Linked DNA regions of Homo sapiens: all the other regions are linked to region 1. The links come from fine-mapping of genetic effects on gene expression. A gene starts in region 1. Each other region holds a variant in brackets. All regions are shown on one strand. Distances are from middle to middle. Region 1 holds the start of CIMAP1A (ciliary microtubule associated protein 1A). Region 2 overlaps SIRT3 (sirtuin 3). Region 3 overlaps PSMD13 (proteasome 26S subunit, non-ATPase 13).

Region 1 (8,178 bases):
GGGACAGTGTGGAGCAGGGTGTCTGAGGTACTCAGGCCCTACCATCTCTCCCCACACAGACCCTGGGCCCTCCCATCTCACCAAGCTGACCCTGGGCCCTAGAAGGCAGGATGGGACCCCTTGTGGGCAAGTGCTGACAGCCTACGGGGGCTCCTTTCTGGAAATGCTTGATCCTTCCACCAAGACAAACCCTTATTAATGCAATCTGATTTATTAATAATTTGGGCACAGCAGAAAACAAGATTAAAAAATGGTAAAATAGCATAGAAAAAAAGTAACTGATTACAATTGCCCAAACAAGCGTGCTCTGCCCTGCAGGGCCAGGCTGGCCCAGCCCAGCTGGTGAAGACAGCCTCGAGCTCTGTGGCCCGGCGGATCTTGTGTAGATGCCGGGTGTGATGGGGCACAGCAGGGCTGGCGTTATTCCACATCAACCAGCAGGGGAGTCATGTAATCAGAGTGTTTGATGCCGAAGGTGACAACTGGGGCGCAGGGCTTGGTCAGGGTCACCTGGGAGAGGAGGGGCTATGATAGGAACCAGCACCCCTGCCCCCACCTGCAGGTCTCTGCCCTGGCTGGGGCTGGGCTGCTGTCCTTCCTGAACCTGGGGCCAAGGTGGCCAGAAGCTATGCTCCCAGGTTTGAACACAGAGCACTCAGCAGTAGTAGCTGTCACAGTGTCTAGGGAAAAGGGCAGGGTCTCTGCTTCCATGTCCCTGAAGGGTTACCTGTGGGCCTAGTGCTGGAAATGTACAGGGTCCTCAGGGTGCAGGTGCCTCCCATCCCCACCCCACCCCTCCACCCCTTCTTGGCTGTGTCCTTCCATAGCCTGACCCTGTTTCCCCTCGTCTGTGTCCCAGCCCCCCTCCCTGCTCTTTCCTACACATCCCTCTGGGCCAGGACCCTGCCCCACCCTGACCCCTCTGAGCTGTGCTCTTCCTGGACCTTCTCAGGGCTGTGGGCGCCTGGTCCTGGCTTGAGGGTCTTGTCCCCTGGGGGCTCCACACGGGCAGCCATGGTGTACTGCGGAGCCTTGAACTTGGTCACCCGCACATCAGTTTGGCGGTAGGCTGCGGGACCTGGGGTCTGAGAGGTAAAGGAGGCTCAGACCAACTCGGCCTACCCAGGGCGTGTGGCCCTAGAGGACAGGGAGCAAACTCAGGCTCTGAGTCAACAGGGTCAGCTACAAGTTGGTGCCCGTGCATCAAGGTCCCCTTCTGTCTTCTGTCACACTGTGGAGATCACACCCCACTGCTTGTGGGGTACCTCATGTGGGGGTCACTTCCTCCATTTCAGCCTCACGCTGGCAATGGCATCCCCAGTGTGTGCCAGTCCTGGGAACATCGCTGAGCGTGTGTGAGAGAGGCTGTTGCTGCCCTGTTGGACCTGAGGGCCTGGGGCTGGCAAAATCAACATGGACGAGGGCTGTTGGGTGCCATGATGCTGCTTCCCCATCTCAGGCCCCTCAAGCTCTCAGGCATGTGCCACCCAGGGGCTTTGCACTGGCTGTTTCTGAAACCAGGACCCTCCTCCCCCAAATAGCTCATGGTTTATTTTTTCCTCCTCCTCTTCTTTCCATGCTACCCTATCTAAGATTGCCTCTCTCTCTCCAGACAGTGCTTCCTAAACCCCATCTCTTGTCCTCAGCACGGTCCATGCTGGGGCCAGGGCGTCTCCCTTCTGGCCTGTTGCCTGCCCCTCCTCACCACTGCAGTGTAACCCCAGCACGTGGCAGGTGCCCAGAGGGTGAAGGGCTGAGGGGGCTGAGGGGCATTGGCAAGGCAGGGCCGAACTGGTGGGTCCTGGGTTCCGGGGGAGGGTTCAGATGGTTGGGGGTGATTCTCTGTTCTCAGTTGGGGTGGCCCTTGCCTTGTGTAGGTCGTCGCTGAAGCCGCCCAGCTTGCTGCGGCCCTTGATGGAAAAGGAGGGCTGGGAGGCCTTGCCGACGGTATTGGGCCCCATTACCATGGGCAGCATGTACGCAGCGGGGCCTGCAGGGTGGACGTGGAGCCTCAGGCCGGAACAGGGCCCACTGCTCCTTCCCTGGGGCTCTCCCCCAACTCTGGAGATCAGCCGTCGGGCTGCCCCATGTCACACACCCCACCCAGGATCCCCAGGTCCATTTGGCTGAGGATGGTTGGGGCTGCTGCGGACCTGGGGTGCTGTCCACTCGGAATGCCTTTGTCCGGGCAGAGATGGAGTGGCTGGGTGCTGAGTCGAACACGTACTTGGTGGATTTCTCTGGAAAGTAGTCACCTGGACAAGGAGCCAAGGGGGCTGCTGGGACAAGCAGGTGGGTATGCAGCCCAGTTTGGGGGCTCAAGGAGGACTCCCCAACATTCTAGGCGTGGGGCCTCTGGGCTCCAACACAGGTGGTGACCAAGTCGGGTCAGGGGGTGTCCAGGATGGAAATGCTGACTTCAGGGCTGGTGAGACAAAGGCTATTTTTGAGCAGGGAGAGTGGGGTCTGACGTCGGCCTGGCAGAGAAAGGTCCAGGTCGGAGCTGGACTCTTGGGCCAGAGTCTTCTCTGCCCAGGCACGATGGTGACCCCTCAAGAGAGAAAGATGGGACGGGAGGGGCCAGGATGGCTGAGCTCTCCCACACCCTTGCTGACATGAGGTTAGGGGCACCCAGCAGGGAGGGGCAGGCCTGAGGCTGCGCAGGGCAGGAGCCTGAGACAGGGTCACTAACCTGGACCAGGAGTCAGCATGGTCTTGGTTTGGTAGCGCCCCAGGATGGAGTAGGCAGGGCCAAGGTCCTTGCCAGTCCTCAGTATCTTGGGGTTTACATTGTAACGGGGCCCTGGGGAGCAGTTCTCTGCCAGGAGCATGGGGGCCCCACGGAAGCTGTAGGCCGGTGCACGCAGCTTGGTGGGCGTGTGCTTCATGAAGCCTGTGGACGCAATGGGCCCTGAGCAGCCCGGAGCCTGACCTGCCCTTCTCCCCGCTGGGAGTCAGGGATTGAGCCCCAGGCCCTTCCCGGGACCCCCACCTGCCCGCCTGGCTCCTGACCCTCTCCCACAGTCTCTCAGGCTCTTACCTGTTGTTGGTGGAATCAGGTACTTGGGTCCAGGGCTGCTGTAGAGGGCCATGATGGGTCCCCGGGGGCGATGGGGCCTCCAGGTACCCATCCATACCTCCTCCGTCATGGCCAGCTCTGTCCGTAAGTGAGAGGGTTACCAGGTGCTGGGAGGCCCGGCCCTGTCCCATGCCGGCCCCTGATGTCCCCGACCCTGCTCTTGCTGACACTGAAGGGTAAGACCTGCGGAACCTGCTGCAGCATCAGTGGGGATCTCCAGCTGGGAGCCAGGAGTCAGGGACAGTAGGAGCTTTCTGCATGGGTCTGTGAGCTCCTCACCAGCTTAACTGTAACCCAGAGTTGCTGTCCATGCTGGCCCTTAACTCACCACTGTTCTCGGCTCTAAGGGAGCCCTGGGCCGGTTTCTCCTACTTGGAGTGGTCAAAGATGGGGAACTTCTTGATTGAGGCTGAGCTGAGGGGCAGGGAGGGGGCCGCCTGGGAGGGAACTATAACTTCTTCAGTGCAGGGACAGCACTCAGAGCAGCCTAGAGACCCATCCTCATCAGAGACTGTCCTTTCCCCCCTGGCCTTGGTGCCAGGGAGTTCCCGCAAAAGGAGCATGGAGAGAAAGGCCTTCCTCTCTCCTCATGGGCTTACAGAATTGGGGAGAGGTCCCCCACTCTAAACTCTAGAATGTGGCTCTGTGGGATGACAGGTTCTAGATTCTGTCTATGTGACCAAGACAATGGCTTCTGCCTTTGATCCCCTCACCAGATCTCACCACCAGGTCCCCCCAACAGGACACCCCTATAAGTCCCCCTGACCATGTTCCCCTCACCATGTTCCCCTCACCAGGTCCTCCTCACCAGGTCCCCTCACCAAGGCTCCCCACCCATGTCCTCCTCACCAGGTCCCCTCACCAGGTCCCCTCACCAAGGTCCCCCCCATGTCCCCTCACCAGGTCCCCTCACCAAGGTCCCCCCCATGTCCCCTCACCAGGTCCCCTCACCAAGGTCCCCCCCATGTCCCCTCACCAGGTCCCCTCACCAAGGTCCCCCCCATGTCCCCTCACCAGGTCCTCCTCACCAAGGTCCCCCCCATGTCCCCTCACCAGGTCCCCTCACCAAGGTCCCCCCCATGTCCTCCTCACCAGGTCCCCTCACCAAGGTCCCCCTCATGTCCCCTCACCAGGTCCCCTCACCAAGGTCCCCCCCATGTCCCCTCACCAGGTCCTCCTCACCAAGGTCCCCCCCATGTCCCCTCACCAGGTCCCCTCACCAAGGTCCCCCCCTATGTCCCCTCACCAGGTCCCCTCACCAGGTCCCCTCACCAAGGTCCCCCCCATGTCCCCTCACCAGGTCCCCTCACCAAGGTCCCCCCCATGTCCTCCTCACCAGGTCCCCTCACCAAGGTCCCCCCCATGTCCCCTCACCAGGTCCGCTCACCAAGGTCCCCCTATGTCCCCTCACCAGGTCCCCTCACCAAGGTCCCCCCCATGTCCCCTCACCAGGTCCTCCTCACCAGGTTTCCCTAAGTTCCCTCACCAGACCACCCCTCACCAGGCCCCCTCACCATGTTTCTTTCACCAGGTCCCCTCAACCAGGCACCCACCCATGAAGTCCCCCTCACTGGGTCCCCTCACCAGGTCCCCTGTAACCAAGTCCTCCAGGGCCCCCTCCCTAGGGCTCCCTCAGCCAAATGGAAATCCAGGCAGATACCATGTAGGCAGGTGGGACAGAGCACAGAGCCGACAGCACCGCATGGCCCCCTTGCCAGGCTCAGACAGGACAGAGGTGTGGAGAGGAGGGCCGGGGCAGTGAAGTGTCAGGGCTCAGCACCCAGGGTGGCCAAGGATGGGGCGGTTCCACTCAGCTGTGCCCCCAGAAGAGACCATAGATTGGGCAGCTGAAATGCTGGAAGGTTCTGGCTGTGGGAGAGTCTGGGATCCAGGGTCAGGATCAGGGTCTGTGCTGGTTGTGGTGGGTGTGAGTCAGTGTGGGCGCTGGGGCTGCCCTGGCTGACCTCAGAGGCTGCTCACCTGCGGCTCCCAACCCCCTTGGACATGGGTGTACCTTTTTCTTGGCCTTGTCAGGGGTCCTCTTGGGGCTCGACACCAGCTTTCAGATGCTGAGCACCCCCGCCCTGACCTAGCCCATGGGCGACATGGGGTCTGTGTCCACCCAGTCCTGGACACTTCCTCTTTCTGGGGCTCCCACCTCATACCGCTGCCTCTGCCGCCCGTCTCCCTCCGGACGCCCCCTCCAGACGCCCCCTCCGGACGACCACGCAGTGTTGTCTGGCTCTGTGCTCTGTCCACCTGCCTACGTGGCGTCTGCCTGGATTTCCATTTTGGGTCTTGCCTGTGGTGTGCCTGCTCCTGTGTGGACCCTGTGTGTACCTCTGTGGGGACTTTCACACGTGTGTTCCTTGAGTGGGATCCTCTGTATGTGGGTCTGTGTGTGTGGCTGTGGCCCTGTGTTCCTGATGTCCCCATTTGTGTGTACCTCTGTGGGGACTTTCACACGTGTGTTCCTTGAGTGGGATCCTCTGTATGTGGGTCTGTGTGTGTGGCTGTGGCCCTGTGTTCCTGATGTCCCCATTTGTGTGTCCCTCTGTGGGGGACTTTCGCACGTGTGCTCCTTGAGTAGGATCCTCTGTATGTGGGTCTGTGTGTGTGGCTGTGGCCCTGTGTTCCTGATGTCCCCATTTGTGTGTCCCTCTGTGGGGACTTTCGCACGTGTGCTCCTTGAGTGGGATCCTCTGTATGTGGGTCTGTGTGTGTGGCTGTGGCCCCGAGTGTGTTCCTGATGTCCCCATTTGTGTGCCCCTCTGTGGGGGCAGAGACAGGAGCCTGAGCTGCGGAAGAGGCTTTATTGATTAAACGGTTTGAGGATACATTTCCATGTGGGAGGTGGTAGTGGGCGTTGTGTCCACGGCTGCTTGTGTGGCAGGTCCTATGGCTGAGCCATGTCTGAGGTCCACTTAGGCACCGTCCTGACTGCCCAGCACTTGCACCTGGAAGGCAGACACATGTGGACTAAGAGGGCTGTGCTCAATAAGTGGAGAGCCACAGCTCCATCAGGCAAGCAAGGCCCTCAGTGGGGGGGGGTCTGGCATATTGCTGCCTATCTCCTCCCAGCAGCTGGGAGGTGTGTGTGCACATGTGATGGTGTGCACACATGTATGTGTGTGCATATCCCAGTGTGAGCATGTGGGTGTGAACGTGTTTATACATGTGTGCACGCAGTGTACATTTCATGTCTGCACCTGTGTTTGGATCTCTGTGTATGTTCACATGTGTGCATGGAGGAGTATCCCACAGACTGGGGAGGAGGTCTATGGAGTCTGGGGGCTGCTCGGTGGACAGGAGGTCTGGGGTGTCCACCTGAGCTGGCTGATGCGGGTGCAATGTCTGTGGGTGGTGGATGTCTGTGGGTGGGGTAGGCTGTGTGGGTGCTGTGTTGGGTGGTCTTGGTAAGGCTGCAGATCTTTAGAAAATGGGGTGCCCGCCGCCCTCATACCAGCAGCTTGACCAGCTCCGCCTTGTGCATTGGCTGCAGGCCATCTATACAGGACTTGAGTTCAGTCATTGCTGCCTTGGCATCTTCGTTGACATTGTACTTGCCCAAGGTCCCCTCATAGAGCTCCTCTGGGGTCCCCACCAGTAGTGTTTGCAGGAAGTCCATGAAAAACTCATCGTTGTCCTCCCCTGTGGCCATCCCTGCATCACGAGCGAGATGATGCCAGGACAGGACAGGGTGACTCTGGTGCAACCACAGCCCTGGACCTGCCCCAGGGCTCCAACCTCCATGGTCTCCAGACCTTCCCCTTCAATGCCCACCTCTCCTCCCCAGGGCTTCCTCCACAACACCTCCAACTCCACCTTGCCCGAAGACCCCTCCACATCCCCCTTAATCTTAGCTGCTCCAATTTCCACTCAGCATTCCCTGGGATCACCAGGGAAGGAAAGTTAAGCTCCTGGTGTGGGGGAAATTTCCCCTGATGAGAGGCTATTATGACCAGAGGCTTGAAGGGTCAGGTCAGGCTGGACTGGGCTGGGGTAGGAGACACTGGGCTGGTGTTGGGTCAGCTGGGCTTTGTCCTTGGTTGGGGTGGAGTAGGGTGGGCGCGGGTTCTGCAGGGTCCTTGCCCACTTCTGTGACAGAAGCAGGTGGAGTGTTCACTGCAGAGGCCCGATGCCAGGATTTTACCTTCTCAGGTACCCCCCACTCCCCCCCACCCCTGAATGTTCTGGAAACCCCAGTGGCACAGACTCACGGCAGATGCAGAACAGGGTGAGGGCCACCAGCAGGAGGGCACGGCTCCCCTTCATGCCAGCAGTCTCAGGAGCTGCCTCCAGCCAGAATCCCGGGATTTTATGCCTCACCGGACAGCACCTCTCCTAGAGGGCGGACCGGACCTGCCCATTAGGACCCGGCAGCCAGCTTAGATGAGGTTTGTTCACATCCCTGGCCCCCAGTGGGTGCCAAGCAGCAACAGGCATGGAGTGGCTGTGTGACAGGTGGTTGGCAAGCGGCTTTAGGGTGTGTGAGAGAGAGAACAGGTGTGTTAGGAGGGAACACTGGTGAGAGGCCATGCCAACTGATCGGTGAAGAAGGCAGTGGGTCCTGGCCACCAAGGGCCTCTAGTCATGCCTGCCCTTGAGGCCGAGAGTGGTGGGATCTGGGGTTGGTCCCACGCCTTTCTTTTAAGGTGCGAATCCCTCCTCTTATCAGTGTGCTGTGTGATCTGGGTCTGCATCTGGGGGTCTCCAATCAGGCAGGGGCCCCTTACTACTCAGATGGGGTGGCCGAGTAGGGGAAGGGGGTGCAGGCTGCACGAGTGGACACAGCTGTAGGACTACCTGGGGGCTGTGGATCTATGGGGTGGGGAGAAGCCCAGTGACAGTGCCTAGAAGAGAGAAGGTGGCCTGAGAGGGTCTGAGGAACATAGAGCTGGCCATGTTGGGGCCAGGTCTCAGCAGGAAGTGAGGAATGGGACAGGCTTGAGGTACATCTTCCATCAGTAGCCAGGATAGCAAGGAGGGCTTGGGGTTGCTATCCTGGGGTTCAACCCCCCAGGTTGAAGGCCCTGGGGGAGATGGTCCCAGGACATATTACAATGGACACAGGAGGTTGGGACACCTGGAGTCACCAA
Region 2 (8,178 bases), 34 kb before region 1:
CCTCAGGGTCCCCCACTCCCAGTGAATTTCACACCATGCAGCATGTACTTTAAGCCATACATCTTACGTATGTTCCAGACATTTGGTAAAACGCCGTTTATGTGTTTTTCAGTGACTCACAAACATTTTATTTACGTAAATGAGGAATGTACTCAGGCACCCTTCGTGATACCTTGCCCTCAGCAGGCACTCAACAGCAATAATAACTTTCATTCCTTTTGTGCTTCTCTTAACAGTTCGTGTTTAGTAGGAGCACAGTAGCTGTTTGGGGAACGACCTTAAGTGAATAGATGTCTGAAATGCTGTGTGAAGTGGGGCGCTTAATAGGTGGTGAGATGGTTTTAGAACCAGGGTTTTCCCTCTTTGCTTCTTGACTCCTTAACCAGTTTTCATTAGGAGACCCCTTTGGAGGTTTGCAGTCAGTCAGAGTTGAGTGCCTACTGAGTGTACTGAATTATGAAATGAGCACAGTTCCCATTAACCTGAATTTTTTGCTCCCAAGTAAGTCTTGATTTCTGATTTATGACTGCTTTTTGTTGTACCCCAATAGTCGTCTAAGAAAGGTGATTATTTTGAGAGGCCTGGGGAGACACACATGCTCATTCTCGAGGGTGGCGGTGGTGCAGAGGGCAGAGCCATGCTCGTTCTTGCTATCCTGAGATTGGTTGCTATCTGTTTCCTTTGCTGCTGTGTTTTTTTCTGTCAGTATTAAAGGTGGAAGAAGGTCCATATCTTTTTCTGTGGGTGCTTCAAGTGTTGTTGGAAGTGGAGGCAGCAGTGACAAGGGGAAGCTTTCCCTGCAGGATGTAGCTGAGCTGATTCGGGCCAGAGCCTGCCAGAGGGTGGTGGTCATGGTGGGGGCCGGCATCAGCACACCCAGTGGCATTCCAGACTTCAGGTACTGCCCACAGTCCCACCTGCCTTCTGCGCTCCCCTCCCCTGACTCCTGCCCTCCCCACTGCCCAGTTTATTCCACTTCCCTGTCCTCTTCCAAAGGCCTCAGAGCCTTTCTTCTCTCCCTGCAGATCGCCGGGGAGTGGCCTGTACAGCAACCTCCAGCAGTACGATCTCCCGTACCCCGAGGCCATTTTTGAACTCCCATTCTTCTTTCACAACCCCAAGCCCTTTTTCACTTTGGCCAAGGAGCTGTACCCTGGAAACTACAAGCCCAACGTCACTCACTACTTTCTCCGGCTGCTTCATGACAAGGGGCTGCTTCTGCGGCTCTACACGCAGAACATCGATGGGCTTGAGAGAGGTGAGCCCTCTGTGAGTCGCACACATTCTTTTTCTCCCACGGAGGCTCGGGTGCCTGTTTCTCCCAGGGAGGCTCGGGTGCCTGTTTCTCACAGGGGATGCTCGGGTGCCTGTTTCTGGGGACGGCCAAAACCTATCGCTTATGCTTCTTCCTTGGGACTTTTTTTGAGCCAACTAGTTAGGGCTTTGTTCCCAAGGAAAATGTCCTCTGGGTGTTTAAAGGCCACTGCTTGTTCTCCTGCATACCTGCAGAGCTGTGTATTTTGGGCAGAAGTTGACATTGTTTTGCCAATCTGGTGTGATGATCTCTTTTTTTCTTCTCTCTTTTAAGAAGTGTATTATGGAATTTTTTTGAGCACACACAAAGAGAGCAATGTAACGAACCGTCCTGTCCTCATCACCAGCACACAGCCAGTTCTTCCTGCGTCCTCACCACCTTCTTCCAAATCCCCAGATTATTTTGAAGCAAATCTCTCACATCATGAATTTAATCTAGAAATAATCTATAAACACATGAATGGATAGCTCTAGAGAATACTTTAAAAACAACTCCGGCCGGGTGCCGGATTACAGGTGTGGGATCACACCTGTAATCCCAGCATTTTGGGAGGCCGAGGCAGGTAGATCACCTGAGGTCGGGAGTTCGAGACCAGCCTGGCCAACGTGGCAAAACCCCGTCTCTACTAAAAATACAAAAAATTAGCCAGGCGTGGTGGTGTGTGCCTGTAATCCCAGGTACTCGGGAGGCTGAGACAGGAGAATCTCTTGAACCCAGCAGGCGGAGGTTGCAGTGAGCCGAGATCGTGCCACTTCACTCCAGCCTGGGCGACAGAGGGAGATTCTGTCTCAAAAAAATAAATAAAAATAAAAATAATTAAAAAATAAAAACAACTCTGATAGTGATTCACACTGAAGAATCACTAGTAATTCCTTAATATGGTCACACTTAGTCTGTGGTGATTTCTTGACCGTATCCATATGGTGCCCAAACCAGCGATTCACAGGTTGTGCCAACTTCTGGCCGTGCACCTAACGGAAGCACTTGGTGGGGCCTTTTCCTTACGTGCAGTGATGCAGACAGGTGCTGGGACAGTCAGCTCTCCGGGAGCCAGGCTCCCGGAGAGACTGCTGATGTGTTGTCAGTTAAAAAGAGGTGGCACCTTGGCTCCAGGAATGTGTTTCCTTGCCAGAAGGATCCCCTGACTTGGAACCACAGAGGCAGCAGCGGATGCCCCATGTTGGTGGGCTCTTCTCCCAGAGGTGCAGCAGGGCAGGCCTTGTGGGAAGGTGGGAGCTCCTGGCTGTGAGATTCAGCACTGCTGAGTTAGGGCAGCGACAGGGACTTGGGAAGCCTCCTGCAGCTGGGACCCTGGCTGTGCCACCGCAGCCTTTCAGAACCAGTTAATACTAACACAACTTTCATAAGAAGTCACTTTTTGTCTGTTTCTACCAAGCAATTCTTTTGGAATTTATGATATTTATATCCTCATTTTAACTTGGTATCTGTAGAATAGAAGATATGTTCCTGGATATTAGATATAAATTTTTGAGACAGGGTCTTGGCTCTGTTGCCCAGGCTAGAGTGCAGTGGCATGATCATAGCTCACTATAGCCTGAACTCTTGGGCCGAAGTGATCCTTTTGCCTCAGCCTCTGGAATAGCTGGGACTACGGGCATGCACTACCATGCCTGGCTAATTAAAAAAATTTTTTAAGACAAGTCTCACTATGTTGCTGAGGCTGGTCTCAAACTCCTGGCCTCAAGTGATCCTCCTGCCTTGGCCTTCCAAAGCACTGGGATTACAGGCATGAGCCACTGCACCCAGCCTGGTATTAGGTGTAATTTTTTTTTTTTTTTTT[G/TG]AGACAGAATCTCGCTCTCTTACCCAAACTGGAGTGCGGTGGCACGACCTCAGCTCACTGCAACTTCCACCTCCCGGGTTCAAGCGATTCTCCTGTCTCAGCCTCCCCGAGTAGCTGGCACTACAGGTGCCTGCCACCACATCTGGCTAATTTTTGTATTTTTAGTAGAGGTACGGTTTCACCATGATGGCCAGGCCGGTCTTGAACTCCTAGCCTCAAATGATCTGCCCACCTCGGCCTCCCAAAGTGCTGGGATTACAGGTGTGGGCCACTGTGCCCGGCTGGATATAATTTTATTTGAGCTTTTATCAAATGGTTTTTCGTACTGAGTTTTGACAGGCTTTGTTTTAACCGTGATTTGGCTCCAGCTAGGTGCCCCTTTGCTCCCCTGCCTTATTCTGGTTGATGGCGCATGTAGGTGATACGGGCATGAAAACCAGGCTTGAGGACATCACAACCCCAAGGGGCTGTGCCTCCTTCCAGGAGTCCTGCCAAGCCCAGAAGTTGTGCTCTTGGCCTTGCGTGCTCATCTCGGAGGCGGCAGCAACACTTCGCTTTGGCTTGAATTTCAGTGTCGGGCATCCCTGCCTCAAAGCTGGTTGAAGCTCATGGAACCTTTGCCTCTGCCACCTGCACAGTCTGCCAAAGACCCTTCCCAGGGGAGGACATTCGGGTGAGTTATCCTGCTGTTGGTTGTCCTTCTGCAGTTTGCTGTTGGGGTGATCTGGAAAAGTGGTATTTTATAAGCATTGTCTCGAAAGGACAGTTGAACAATAATAGTGTGAAACATTTTATTTGTAAATTAGAAAATCAATACATGCTTGTAAAAAAATTTAAGACAATATAGAAATATGTAGGGAAAATGAATCTCCCTTCAGCCAATTCCAGCTGCCCACTTTTTTTTTTTTTTTTTGAGATTGAGTCTCACTCTGTCGCCCAGGCTGGAGTGCAGTGGGCGATCTCGGCTCACTGCAACCTCCGTCTCCCGGATTCAAGGAATTCTTCTGCCTCAGCCTCCTAAGTAGCTGGGATTACAGGCGTGAGCCACCACGCCCGGCAATCAGATGGCCTTTTGTGCCGAGCTTATTTCCTGAAAATGTTTCTCGCTCCTTCGCCTTGTAGCTTGTGTTAGTATTTCATCCTGTTTCATGGCTAAATGTTCCACTGATGTATGCACCACAGTTGGTTTGTTTGTACATGGATGGGTGTTTGGGTTGTCCCACCTTTCTGCTCTTGTGTATAGTTCTGCTGTGGAGCATATGCAAGTATTCGTTTGAGAGTCCTTGTTTTTTATTCTTTTGAGTATGATACCTACAAGTATTGCTGGGTAACTCCACGTTTAGCTATATTTATTTATTTATTTTTTGAGACACAGTCTTACACTGTCACCCAGGCTGGAGTGCAATGGCGCGATTTCGGCTCAATACAACCTCTGCCTCCCGGGTTCAAGCGATTCTCCTGCCTCAGCCTCCTGAGAAGCTGGGATTACAGGTGCCTGCCACCATGCCCAGCTAATGTTTTTTGTATTTCTAGTAGAGATGGGGTTTCACCATGTTGGCCAGGCTGCTCTTGCATTCCTGACCTCAGGTGGTTCACCCGCCTCGGCCTCCCAAAGTGCTAAGATTACAGGCGTGAGCCACCATGCCCTGCCCATGTTTAACTTTTTTGTTTGTTTGTTTTGAGACGGAGTCTAGCTCTTATCACCAGGCTGGAGTGCAGTGGCGCAATCTCGGCTCACTGTACCATCCGCCTCCTGGGTTCAAGCGATTCTCCTGCCTCAGCTTCCTGAGTAGCTGGGACTACAGGCACACACCACCACGCCCGGCTAATTTTTGTATTTAGTAGAGTAGTTTCACCATGTTGGCCAGGATGTCTCGATCTCTTGACCTCGTGATCCGCCTGCCTCTTTCTCCCAAAGTGTGGGATTACAGGCGAGAGCCACTGCGCCCGGCCCGTTTTAACTTTTTGAGGAACGAATATACTGTTATCTGCAGAAGCTGGACCATTTTACATTCCACCAACAGTGGGCAAGGGTTTCATCTTTTCCACATCCCAACACTTACTTTCCATTTTTTAATTACAGCTATCCCAGTGGGTGGGAGGTGGTAACCCACTGTAGCACTGATTGGCATTTTCCTAATGATTCATGATATCAAACATCTTTCCATGTGCTTTTTGGCCATTTGTATATCTTTGGAGATTGAAGTCCTTTGCGCATTGTTTAATTGTGTTGTCTTTTTTATTGTTAAGAGAGTCCTTTATATATTCTGGAAGCTAGATCCTTATCAGAGACATGATTTGCAAATATTTTCTGTCATTCTGTAGGTTGTCTTTTTTACTTTGTTGATGTCTTTTGATGCATAGAAGTTTTGATTTTGATGAAATCTAGTTTGTCTATTTATTTTCTCACTCTTTTGGAATCATATCTGAGAAATGGTATTGTTTTACTCCTGTTTTCTTATAAGAGTTTTATAGTTTAAAGCTTTTACATTTAGTTCTTTGATCCATTTTGAGTTAATTTTTGTGTGCGCTGTAAGGTAGGGATCCAGCTTCATTTTCTTTTATGTGGATATGTAATTGTTCCAGCACCATTTGTTTAAAAAAACTGTGGTCTTGGCATTGTTGTTGAAAATCAGTTGGCCATAGGTGTATGGGTTATTTCTAGAGTCTCAATTCTATTCCATTGTTATCTGTATATCCTTGTGCCTGCACTATAATGTTTTGGTTACTGTAGCTTTGTAGTAAGTTTTGAAATTAGGAAGTGTGAGTCCAGCACATAGTAGAAACTTGATATATACGTATTATTGTTTTGGTCAACTCATTCATTGAATGACCAATTTATTCAACAAATAGTTTAGTCTCCTCAGTGCCAGGCCCTTTGCTGGGTTCTGTGGATGTGAATAGAAATTAAAATAAGGTGGAGTCATCCAACAGTTACAACTGGGTGCCATACGAATTTTACTATAAATATGTACTGGACACTACACTGACTCAGCTGTAGGAACAGAGTAGGCTGGGAAGCACCTTTGAGATGAGGCCGTCTGGATGTAAGAGTCTGTTTCTGGCAGCAGAGACCTGGAGTGTGGGAGGCCTGCTTGCTCTGTTAGGGTTTGAACTGTATCCTGACGATCATGGGAGGCATTGGAGGATTTTTAGGCAGGAAAATGATGTGAAGGGATTTGCATTTAAAAGAGATTATTTGGGACTGGGCACAGTGGCTCACGCCTGTAATTCCAGCACTTTGGGAGGCCTAGACAGGCGGGTCACCTGAGGTGGGAAGCTTGAGAGCAGCCTGCCAAAATGGTGAAATCCCATCTCTACTAAAAATACAAAAATTAGCCAGGTGTGGTGGTGCACCTGTAATCCCAGCTACTCAGGAGGCTGAGGCAGAAGAATTGCTTGAACCTGGGAGGGGAGGTTGCTGTGAGCTGAGATCGCACCACTGCACTCCAGCCTGGGTGACAGAGTGAGACTCCATCTCAAAACAAAATAAATAAATAAATAAGAGAATAAAATAGATAATTTGGGCAACAGGTTGATGTTAATTCCCCACCTTTGTTCTTCTCCTTCAGTACTGTGTTGGCTGGTCTGAATCTTTTGGCTTTTCATATAAATTTCTGAAACTGTTGCTATCTGTTCTCTGCCTGTTTTATTTTTGTTGTTGTTGTTTGGATTTTTTGTTTTTTTGAGATAGAGTCTTGCTCTGTTGCCCAGGCTGGAGTGCAGTGGTATGATCTCAGCTCATTGCAACCTCCCCCTCTCAGGTTCAAGCGATTCTCTTGCCTCATCCTCCTGAGTAGCTGGGATTGCAGGCATGCGCCACCATGCCCAGCTAATTTTTGTATTTTTAGTAGAGATGGGGTTTCACTATGTTGGTGAGGCTGGTGTCGAACTCCTGACCTCATGATCCACCCGCCTCGGCCTCCCAAAGTGCTGGGATGACAGGCATGAGCCACCGTGTCTGGCCTCTCTGCCTGTTTTTTAAGACTTTTGTCTTTGGAGTTTTGCGGTTTCTCCACTGTGGTTTTCCATATGAATTTTCTTTTATTTCTTCTGCTTAAAATTTGTAGGCCAGTTGGTCATGGTGGCTCACGCCCGTAATCCCAGTACTTTGGGAGGCCGGGTGGGTGGATCGCCTGAGGTCAGGAGTTTGAGACCAGCCTGACCAACATGGAGAAACCCCATATCTACTAAAAATACAAAATTAGCCGGGCGTGATGGTGCATGCCTATAATCTCAGATACTCGGGAGGCTGAGGCAGGCGAATTGCTTGAACCAGGGAGGCGGAGGTTGCGGTGAGCTGAGATTAGGCCATTGCACTCCAGCCTGGGAAACAAGAGCGAAACTCCATCTCAAAAAAAAAAAAATAATAATAATAATTGTAGGCCTTCCTTAAGAAAAATAAAATAAAATTCTAGGCTGGGCGCGGTGGCTCCTGCCTGTAATCCCAGTACTTTGGGAAGCTGAGGCGGGTGGATCACCTGAGTTAGGAGTTTGAGACCAGCCTGGCCAACATGGTGAAACCCCGTCTCTACTAAAAATACAAAGATGAGCCATTTGTGGTGGCACCCATCTGTAATCCCAGCTACTCGGGAGGCTGAGGCAGGAGAATTGCTGGAACCCAGGAGGCAGAAGTTGTAGTGAACCGAGATCATGCCACTGCACTCCAGCCTGGGTGACAGAGCGAGATGCCATCTCAAAAAAATAAAATATAAAATAAAATTCTAAGCCCTGCAACCAACTGAATGGAGCCCTCCCCTTGGTCAAGGGAACCCCAGAGAAACCTTGGAAGCTTGAGTTCCTGGCCGTAGCAGGAGAGGAGGTCAGACGCGCCTCACTGTACCCCTCCCTCCCCAGCCACCATTAGGCTTCTTCACTAAGGGCTAAACAGAAACCAGCCCTTTTCAAAGACTCTACACTGCTAATGTGGATTACTGGTTTATCTTCCCAGATACAGATTAAAGACAAGATGAGATTAATGGTTCCTTCACCCTTCCCTGAGAGGTCTGCTTAGTTCTCTTCCTCTGTTTCCTTCTATCTTAGGTAAAATGTACATTTACTG
Region 3 (8,178 bases), 48 kb before region 1:
GGGGAGGGCTCAGAAGGTGTTGGCGTCATGGTGCTTCCTACAAATACCTGTGGCTTAGGTAACAGTGAGGGACTGGAGAAGGGACAGTGAAGGAGCGAGGAGGAATTAGCCTCATTTTCATGTAAATTAAATGCTGGAGACAAATATAATGTAGAAACTAAAGGTTACACAAATCTTCCCATTTTTTTCTTCAAAACAGGATGAATCCATCTGAGTAATTTCTTTTTTGTTTGGATGAGATGGAGTCTCGCTCTGTCACCCAGGCTGGGGTGCAGTGGTACAATCTTGGCTCACTGCAACCTCCACCTCCCGAGTTCAAGTGATTCTCCTGCCTCAGACTCCTGAGTAACTGGGATTACAGGCACCCACCATCACACCTGGCTAGTTTTTTGTATTTTTAGTAGAGACAGGGTTTCACCATGTTGGCCAGGCTGGTCTCGAACTCCTGACCTCAGGTGATCCACTCACTTCAGCCTTCCAAAGTGCTGGGATTACAGGCGTGAGCCACCGTGCCCAGCCCCACCTTAGTAATTTCTGAGAACTGTCACCTCAAGCAACTCACAGATGCTAAGTTTGGAGAATATGCTCCTGTGTGACATGGATTTAATGGCCTAGGTTACCTGGTAGATCCTTGATGTCAACACAGCCCAAAAACCGCAGAGCATCTTTGTAGTAGGACGCGTGGTTTCCGATTGTTTGATAGTATTTACTGGAGAGATCATAGAAACGACTGTGAACCGATGTCACACCAGGAAGGTTGTTGAGCATTTCTTCAACATCTTCAATTGTTTCCTATACACAGGAAGGAAAATCATCTCTCTTTTTAAGTTAAAAGTTTATTTTATTTTTTTAGAGACAGGGTCTCACTCTGTTGCCTAGGGTGGTCTTGAACTCCTGGCCTCAAGTGATCCTCCCACCTCAGCCTCTGTAGTAGCTGGGATTACAGGTTCAAGCCACTGTGCTTGGCTAAGATTTTTAAAGTAATATATTGTGAGATGAAAAGCATCAACTACCAAGGCAAAGACTGATGAATGTGACCGCGTTAAAATGGAAAACTTAATCCAAAACACAGAAAAAAGTACAAAGACAAGCTACAGACTGGGAAACAATATTTACAACATTTATAACCCACCAGCAATTATGACCAAGGAAATATAAAAACACTTACAAATGAGTCAGGAGACAAGCAACACAGTAGAAAAATGGGCAAAAGACATTAACAGGCAATTGACAAATTTGGGGACACAAACAGAATGGCCAATAAACCACTAGTAATTGTGAAATGCAAATTAAACCCCCAACAAGATATAATTTCACTTCTATTAGATCAGCAAGAGTTAGAGCCTGAAACTATCAGGTGTTGAAGACATGGAGCTTCCAGAGTACTCATATGGTGCTGAGGGAGCATGTATCTGGGAAAGGCAGAGATGCACACAGCTTGTACCTGTAGTCTCTAGGCATACATCTTGGTGAGATTCTGCCCACACACAAGGGACCAGGCACAGAAATACTTATGGCAGTACTGTTTGTGATAGTAAAAAAAACAACCTAAATCTCCCTTTTTTTTTGAGACAGAGTCTCGCTCTGTTGCCCAAGCTGTAGTGCAGTGGTGCGATCTCGGCTCACTGCAACCTCCGCCTTGCAGGCTGAAGCAATTCGCTGCCTCAGCCTCCCGAGTGGCTGGGACTACAGGCGCCCGCCACCATGCCCGGCTAATTTTTGTGGTTTTAGTAGAGACGGGGTTTTACCATCTTGGCTGGGTTGGTCTTGAACTCCTGACCTTGTGATCCACCTGCCTCAGCCTCCCAAAGTGCTGGGATTACAGGTGTGACCATCGCACCTGGCCCTAAATCTCTTCAATAGGAGACTGGATACATATGTTGTGAAACACTTATACAATGAAATACCGTATAGGAGTAACAGCACATTGGTTACACATACCCACATGACTCTGAAACCTAGTATTGAGCCAATGTTAAAACGCTTGAGTTACACACCCCTATTTAATGAAGGACAAGGAAATGCATGGGCATGAGAGGGAGCCTGGCTGGGGGAGAAGTGTGGTCTGAAGGGTACTGGGACCCTGACTGTGCCGTGTGGCTTCATTCCTTCCTAAGCTGGTTGGGGCACATGGATGCCTATTACAGCATTCTGTACTGTGACTTATAGCTTTCAATATGTCTTAAAATATTTGAAAATAAAATGCACTAAGTATGCATATGGGTTAGGACTGACAATAAACAATAAAAAGTATCTTTTCAGGGCAATGAGGACATGAACACTTTAACCCTTACCCCCAATATTTTCTTTAACATTGTGATTAGCAAACACACACACACACAAACACACACACACAAACACACACAAACACACGAACACACATGCAAACACACACACACACACACACACACACACACACACACACACGTTCTGGTTCAACCAGGTGGACCAGCCACATGTCGGTTTCACTGCCACCCACATCCATACCTGTCTCCCAACTGCACCAAAACATAATTGAACATAAGAAAGACATAAAAATAGACAGGATACTTCAACAACATTTAGGAGGCAGAAGGAAGATGGAGAAATAGCACGTGACATGCCAGTGGTGTGTAGGCTGACCTTGGTCAGGGAGAACCAATGTGCTTTGGGCTGACTGAGGCCATGTGGAGTCATTATTAGACGGATGTGCTGTGGTCACACAGGGGAGTGCTCTTTTGTTTAAGGGCAACAGGCATTGTATCAGCAACTTACTCCTAAGTGGTTTTGGAAAAAAGCTACAGACACACACAAAGGCAAAAGCGGTAAAAGGTTAGCAATCGGGGGGGCTGGGCGCAGCGGCTCACGGCTGTAATCCCAGCACTTTGGGAGGCTGAGGCAGAGGGATCACTTGAGGTCAGGAGTTCCAGACCAGCCTGGCCAACATGGCGAAACCCTGTCTCTACTAAAAATACAAAAAAATTAGCCGGGCAGGGAGGCACGCGCCTGTAATTCCAGCTACTCAGGAGGTTGAGGCAGGAGAATTGCTTGAACCCGTGAGGCGGAGGTTGCGGTGGGCCGAGATTGCACCATTGCACTCCAGCCTGGGAAACAGAGCGAGACTCCGTCTTTAAAAAAAAAAAAAAAAAAAGGTTTGCAATGGGAAATTTAGGTTGGGGTATAGTAGTTCTTTGTGTTATTTTTGCAACTTTTCTGTAATGTAAAAATGTTTTAAAATAAACAGTAAAGAAGAAAAATAGGTTATTTTTTTTCCTAGGGTTTTAAATAATTTTAAACCAAAGATAAATCTGTATTATGGTGATCTCACCTTTGTAACCTGTAGGTCCCCGATGTTTAATTTTAGAGCTCCAATTGCTGTTTTACACAGGATCACTGCCTCATCACTACTTTTCACCTAAGACATCAAAAACAAAAACAAGAAACCTCAGAATGTGGGCAGTTGACTAACAAAGGAAGCTAGCTACTTGTACATTAACTTAACCTTGATGACTAGAGGCCTTGTGGTCTCTAAAGGTCTGGACAGTGAGCATGAACACAAGCTGTTAAGTCATACATACTCTAAAAGGTACTAAAAGGTATTGCCCACATGCCACATTTACCTTCTCACGAGTCTTTTCCAGAAAAGTAAGAGCCACATTAGGATCTGGAAAAGAAGGAACAATCAGAAGGACCATCAACAGACTGGTTTCTGCTAACCAAGACACCCTTAGGTAGGGTAATCTTTAGGTTTTGACCATAAAGTATAATAAAAACATAATATCTGATACAGAAAACACAAAAGTTCAGTTAACTTATATTTCAATTTTAACCACCATTTGGATCTGCTCCTTTATAAAACAAAGTGAGACTTACCAGTCATCTGTCTAACTACATGAAGAATGATTTCCACGAGGGACAAAGGGTTCACCCTGAAATAAAAGCCACCAGCCTTTGAGCACCGCCGAGCATCAATGCACTCATTTTCAAAGTGAAAAACGGATGAGAGGCTTTTACCTGTGTTCAAATTCACTGATAAAGTTTTCATAAAGCTGTGAAACCAAAACATGGAGAGAAATTATAGGATGTCTTTTATTCTGCAAAACGAAGACCCCAAACACTATCTTTGGTAAAGAAGCTGCATCAATGCTATCAAGTTGGGAGTGTGCAAGCCACAGTGCCCAGCACACAGTAAGCAATGCATGTTTGCAGAATGATAGGAGACCATATCAGGGCTTACTTACATTCACATAAATGATCAACAGATTACTAAGG[A/G]ATATTAGGTTTCTTCTAGTTTTGGGAATTAGAGTACTGACCTATAAGAACCTCCAGACAGATTCCTATATTCTTTCTTCCAGGTACTGTAAGCTAAATAGACTATCAGATTGAAACGCTCCCTCAGTTCTCTCCCTGTGGCTTCCGGGCTGTTGGTATTTGGACCCTTGTGAAGATGGCCTGCGCTGCCGTGTGGTCCCCAGCCTACCAGGACAGGTTTATTTGTATCTATCCTGCTTATTTAAATAATAAGAAGACCACTGTGGAAGGAAGGTGAATCCCATAAGTAAGGCTGTTGAAAATCCTACAGCCAGAGATTCAAGATCTATGTTCAGGTTTATTTGTATCTGTCCTACTCATTTAAATAATAAGACCATTGTGGAAGGAAGGTGAATCCCCATAAGTAAGACTGTTGAAAATCCTACAGCTAGAGATTCAAGATCTATGTTTAGCAGTTGGACTTAATGCATTTCTTGAGAAAAATAAAATGTTCTCTAGAGAATGGAATCGTGATGTTCAATATAAAAGCAGAATCTGGGCCCAGCTCAAACAGGAAAATGGCAGCCTCTATCTTGTACATTTCCCACCACGTTAAGTCAGTAATGTTGTGTGCAGCATAAATGATACCTAAATTAAAAACAAGGACACAAAAAAACAGGAGGTGGTGACCAAAGTCTTCAACAAGGAGAGGGAAGTAAAAAAAGGGAAAGAAAAAGACGTAACCATCCGGGCGCAGTGGCTCACGCCTGTAATCCCAGCACTTTGGGAGGCAGAGGTGGGTGGATCATGAGGTCAAGAGATTGGAACCATCCTGGTCAACATGGTGAAACCCCGTCTCTACTAAAAATACAAAAATCAGCTGGGCATGGTGGCGCGCGCCTGTAGTCCCAGCTACTTGGGAGGCTGAGGCAGAAGAATCGCTTGAACCAGGGAGGCAGAGGTTGCTGTGAGCTGAGATTGTGCCATTGCATTCCAGCCTAGGCAACAAGAGTGAAACTCCATCTCAAAAAAAAAAGAGAAAAAGAAAAAGACATAATGTAGTATCAGGATCAAGTATGCGGTACTACTGTAAGAGACCTGAATGGAGGCTTCTAATTTGTATCAAAGGAAAACAGAAGCTTTTCGTTTGCATCATTTAACTGAACTGTGAACGCTTGTGCCTCCCATCTTTATCATCGGAGTTGACAGTGAAAAAAATTTATATCAGAAGTTTGCATCTCAATTTTATGGAGTATAAAAGATTTTTTTTGACATTCAACGCAGTTTTTTTGGAAGAAAGAATATCTTAAAATGGACAATGGACTGTACAATAAGTTACTTGAAATCTTATATCTATCTTCTGTGTAAACATGTTTCAGATGAATTTCAATTAGATTTGAAATACACATTTTGTTCACCTATTAAGTTAATGAAATAAAATTTAAAACAAAAAGAGAAATGTTTGCTAATCAAACAGAATGGAGTTCCTTCAGATTTTAATTAAAGCTAATTATGCACCGTTTTCAAATTTCTTAGCCATTCAGCACACTTGAGCACTTCCTCAGACTCCATACTAGATACTACAACATAGAACGTGTAAGACAAATGATGTGTCTTCAAGGAGCTCCTGGTCCACTGAAGACAGTCTTTAAACAAATAAATGACAATACAGTGAGTTTAAGAGCAAAAAGAAAGAAAGAAAAAAAAAGGGGCAGAAGTGCATCAGCCAAAGGGAGAGGCTTCAAAGGTTACTGTAGAAGTGGCAATACTGAGTTTCAAGGAATGAAGGGCGGTTAGAGAGGTGGCCATTTGGTGTGGGAGGGGAAGAAGCTGAGAGAAGAACATTCCAGACAGTAACAAACATGTGCAAAAGCACTGAAGAAAAAAATACATTATGTTTCAGGGGCATTTCTGAGGGACACAGACTAGGAAGCACTGAAGATTGGTCTCTGTCCAGAGTGCAAGGCCGAACCAGAGGACACACATGATCATTTCTATTTTAGAAACACGCCTGGGGCAGAGAGGACAGCAGGTGAAAGAGACTGAGAGAGAACAGTCAGAGGCTAGTACTGGCCAAGACAGGAGAGTGAGGGAGCAACCGTAATGAGGATGGATGAATAATTTGAGAGAGATTTAGGGGTAACGAACCAGACTCACTCAGATGTGGGCCGGTCACAGAGAAGGAGAGCTGACAATAACCCCTGAGTTAGGGGTAACTGGGCCAAGAGCGCCTAGTGTGGGCACAGTAGGAGAGGGAACCTCCAAATGACCTTAACTTTGGATTAGGAGAGCCTGTAGTTCCTCTGGGATATGAAGGTAGAAGGATGAAAACACCCCTGTAGCAATTACATATTCCAATCAGGCACACAAGAAACAGTCAACTAAATAAAATGGCATTTTTGTCCCGGTGCTGTGGCTCACGTCTGTTATGTAGCACTTTGGGAGGCCGAGGCTGGTGGATCACGTGAGGACAGGAGTTCAAGACCAGCCTGGCCAACATGGTGAAATGCCATCTCTACTAAAACTACAAAAATTAGCCAGGTGTGGTGGCACACGCTTGTAATCCCAGCTACTTGGGAGGCTGAGGCATGAGAATGGCTTGAACTGGGGAGACGGAGGTTGCAGCGAGCTGAGATCTGCCATTGCACTCCAGCCTGGGCGACAGTGCGAGACTCTGTCCCTTTGCCCACCCAAAATAAATAAAATGGTGGCCAGGTGGTGGTTCACACCTGTAATCCCAGCACTTTGGGAGGCCAAGGCGGGTGGATCGCCTGAGGTTAGGAGTTTGAGACCAGCCTGGTCAACATGATGAAACCCTGTCTCTACTAAAAATACAAAAATTATCCAGGCGTGGTGGCGGGTGCCTGTAATCCCAGCTACTCTGGAGGCTGTGGCAGGAGAATCACTGGAACCCGGGAGGAGGAGGATGTAGTGAGCTGAGACTGTGCCATTGCACTCCAGCCTGGGTGATAAGAATGAAACTCCGTCTCAAAAAATAATAATAATAAATAAATAAAATGGCATTTTTATTACAAAAGACTATTTCAAAGATATCTTCCTTATTAGAAGGAAATGTTTGAACTTTCCTGACATGTATTAATCTAAAAAATTACCTTAAAAAAGAAGCCCACTAAGTCCAGAAAGTCAAAATTACTTCTGGTGACTATAAATTCAAAAATACTATCCATTTTACACTTATGCTAGCTGGATCCCAACAAATTTTAAAGGTTTATTCTGTCTATGGGAAAAGTAAACTCAGATCTGCCAACCTAAATAAACATCACCTTACCATGAGGTTGAGGAAATATTTTGTCATGTGTAGAAAAGTGATTTAAAGATAAGAAACCAAAGGACAGAGATAAACAATTATGAATCATCTATCGTGATGATTTAGAACCTTAGGGAACAAGTATTAAGACAGGTCTCAGGCCAGGCACAGTGGCTCCTGCCTATAATCCCAGCACTCTGGGAGGCCAAGGCAGGCAGATCACCTGAGGTCAGGAGTCTGAGACCAGCCTGGCCAACACTGGTGAAACCCCATCTCTACTAAGAAATACAAAAATCAGCTGGCTGTGGTGGTGGGCACCTGTAATCCCAGCTACTTGGGACGCTGAGGCAGAAGAATCGCTTGAACTCGGGAGGTGGAAGTTGCAGTGAGCCAAGATCGCACCATTGCACTCCAGCCCGGGCAACAAGAGCGAAACTCCGTCAAAAAAAAAAAAAAAAAAAAAAAAAAAGCAGGTCTCATTTATCATTTTCCCACATAATCCAGAAGACTGAATGTTCAGCAAAATCTCCAGGCTTACAGATGATTGTAAGTTCCTCTGAATAGTAAAATGTCAAATTGATGGCTATAAACCACAAGAAAATCTTACAAGCCCAGGTGGTGGGGTAGCAAGGTGGTAAGCTCTATTGCGAGCATATAAAAGTAATGTATTCAGGAGAAAT

Evidence for each region.
Region 2: its variant is fine-mapped to the expression of CIMAP1A in whole blood (INTERVAL, PIP above 0.99).
Region 3: its variant is fine-mapped to the expression of CIMAP1A in whole blood (INTERVAL, PIP above 0.99).

The regions. Positions count from the first base shown.
Region 1 is chr11:192,276-200,453 of GRCh38, reverse strand. CIMAP1A (ciliary microtubule associated protein 1A) reads right to left here and starts at 3,693. Exons shown (of 7, transcript NM_053280.5): 1 at 3,408-3,693; 2 at 3,041-3,157; 3 at 2,693-2,893; 4 at 2,154-2,255; 5 at 1,869-1,990; 6 at 945-1,085; 7 at 196-510. The coding sequence starts at 3,149. The coding sequence ends at 421. SCGB1C1 (secretoglobin family 1C member 1) reads right to left here and starts at 7,376. Exons shown (of 3, transcript NM_145651.3): 1 at 7,300-7,376; 2 at 6,543-6,742; 3 at 5,879-6,036. The coding sequence starts at 7,354. The coding sequence ends at 6,004.
Region 2 is chr11:226,063-234,240 of GRCh38, reverse strand. It overlaps SIRT3 (sirtuin 3), which reads left to right. Exons shown (of 7, transcript NM_012239.6): 2 at 707-898; 3 at 1,026-1,258; 4 at 3,689-3,789. Among named protein-coding and RNA genes, the nearest start is that of SIRT3, 6.2 kb to the left of the region's middle. The variant G/TG (reference allele first, on the strand shown) is at 3,117.
Region 3 is chr11:239,891-248,068 of GRCh38, reverse strand. PSMD13 (proteasome 26S subunit, non-ATPase 13) reads right to left here. Exons shown (of 13, transcript NM_002817.4): 3 at 3,994-4,028; 4 at 3,853-3,908; 5 at 3,600-3,643; 6 at 3,308-3,394; 7 at 621-792. It also overlaps the pseudogene LOC100420679. Among named protein-coding and RNA genes, the nearest start is that of PSMD13, 7.0 kb to the right of the region's middle. The variant A/G (reference allele first, on the strand shown) is at 4,252.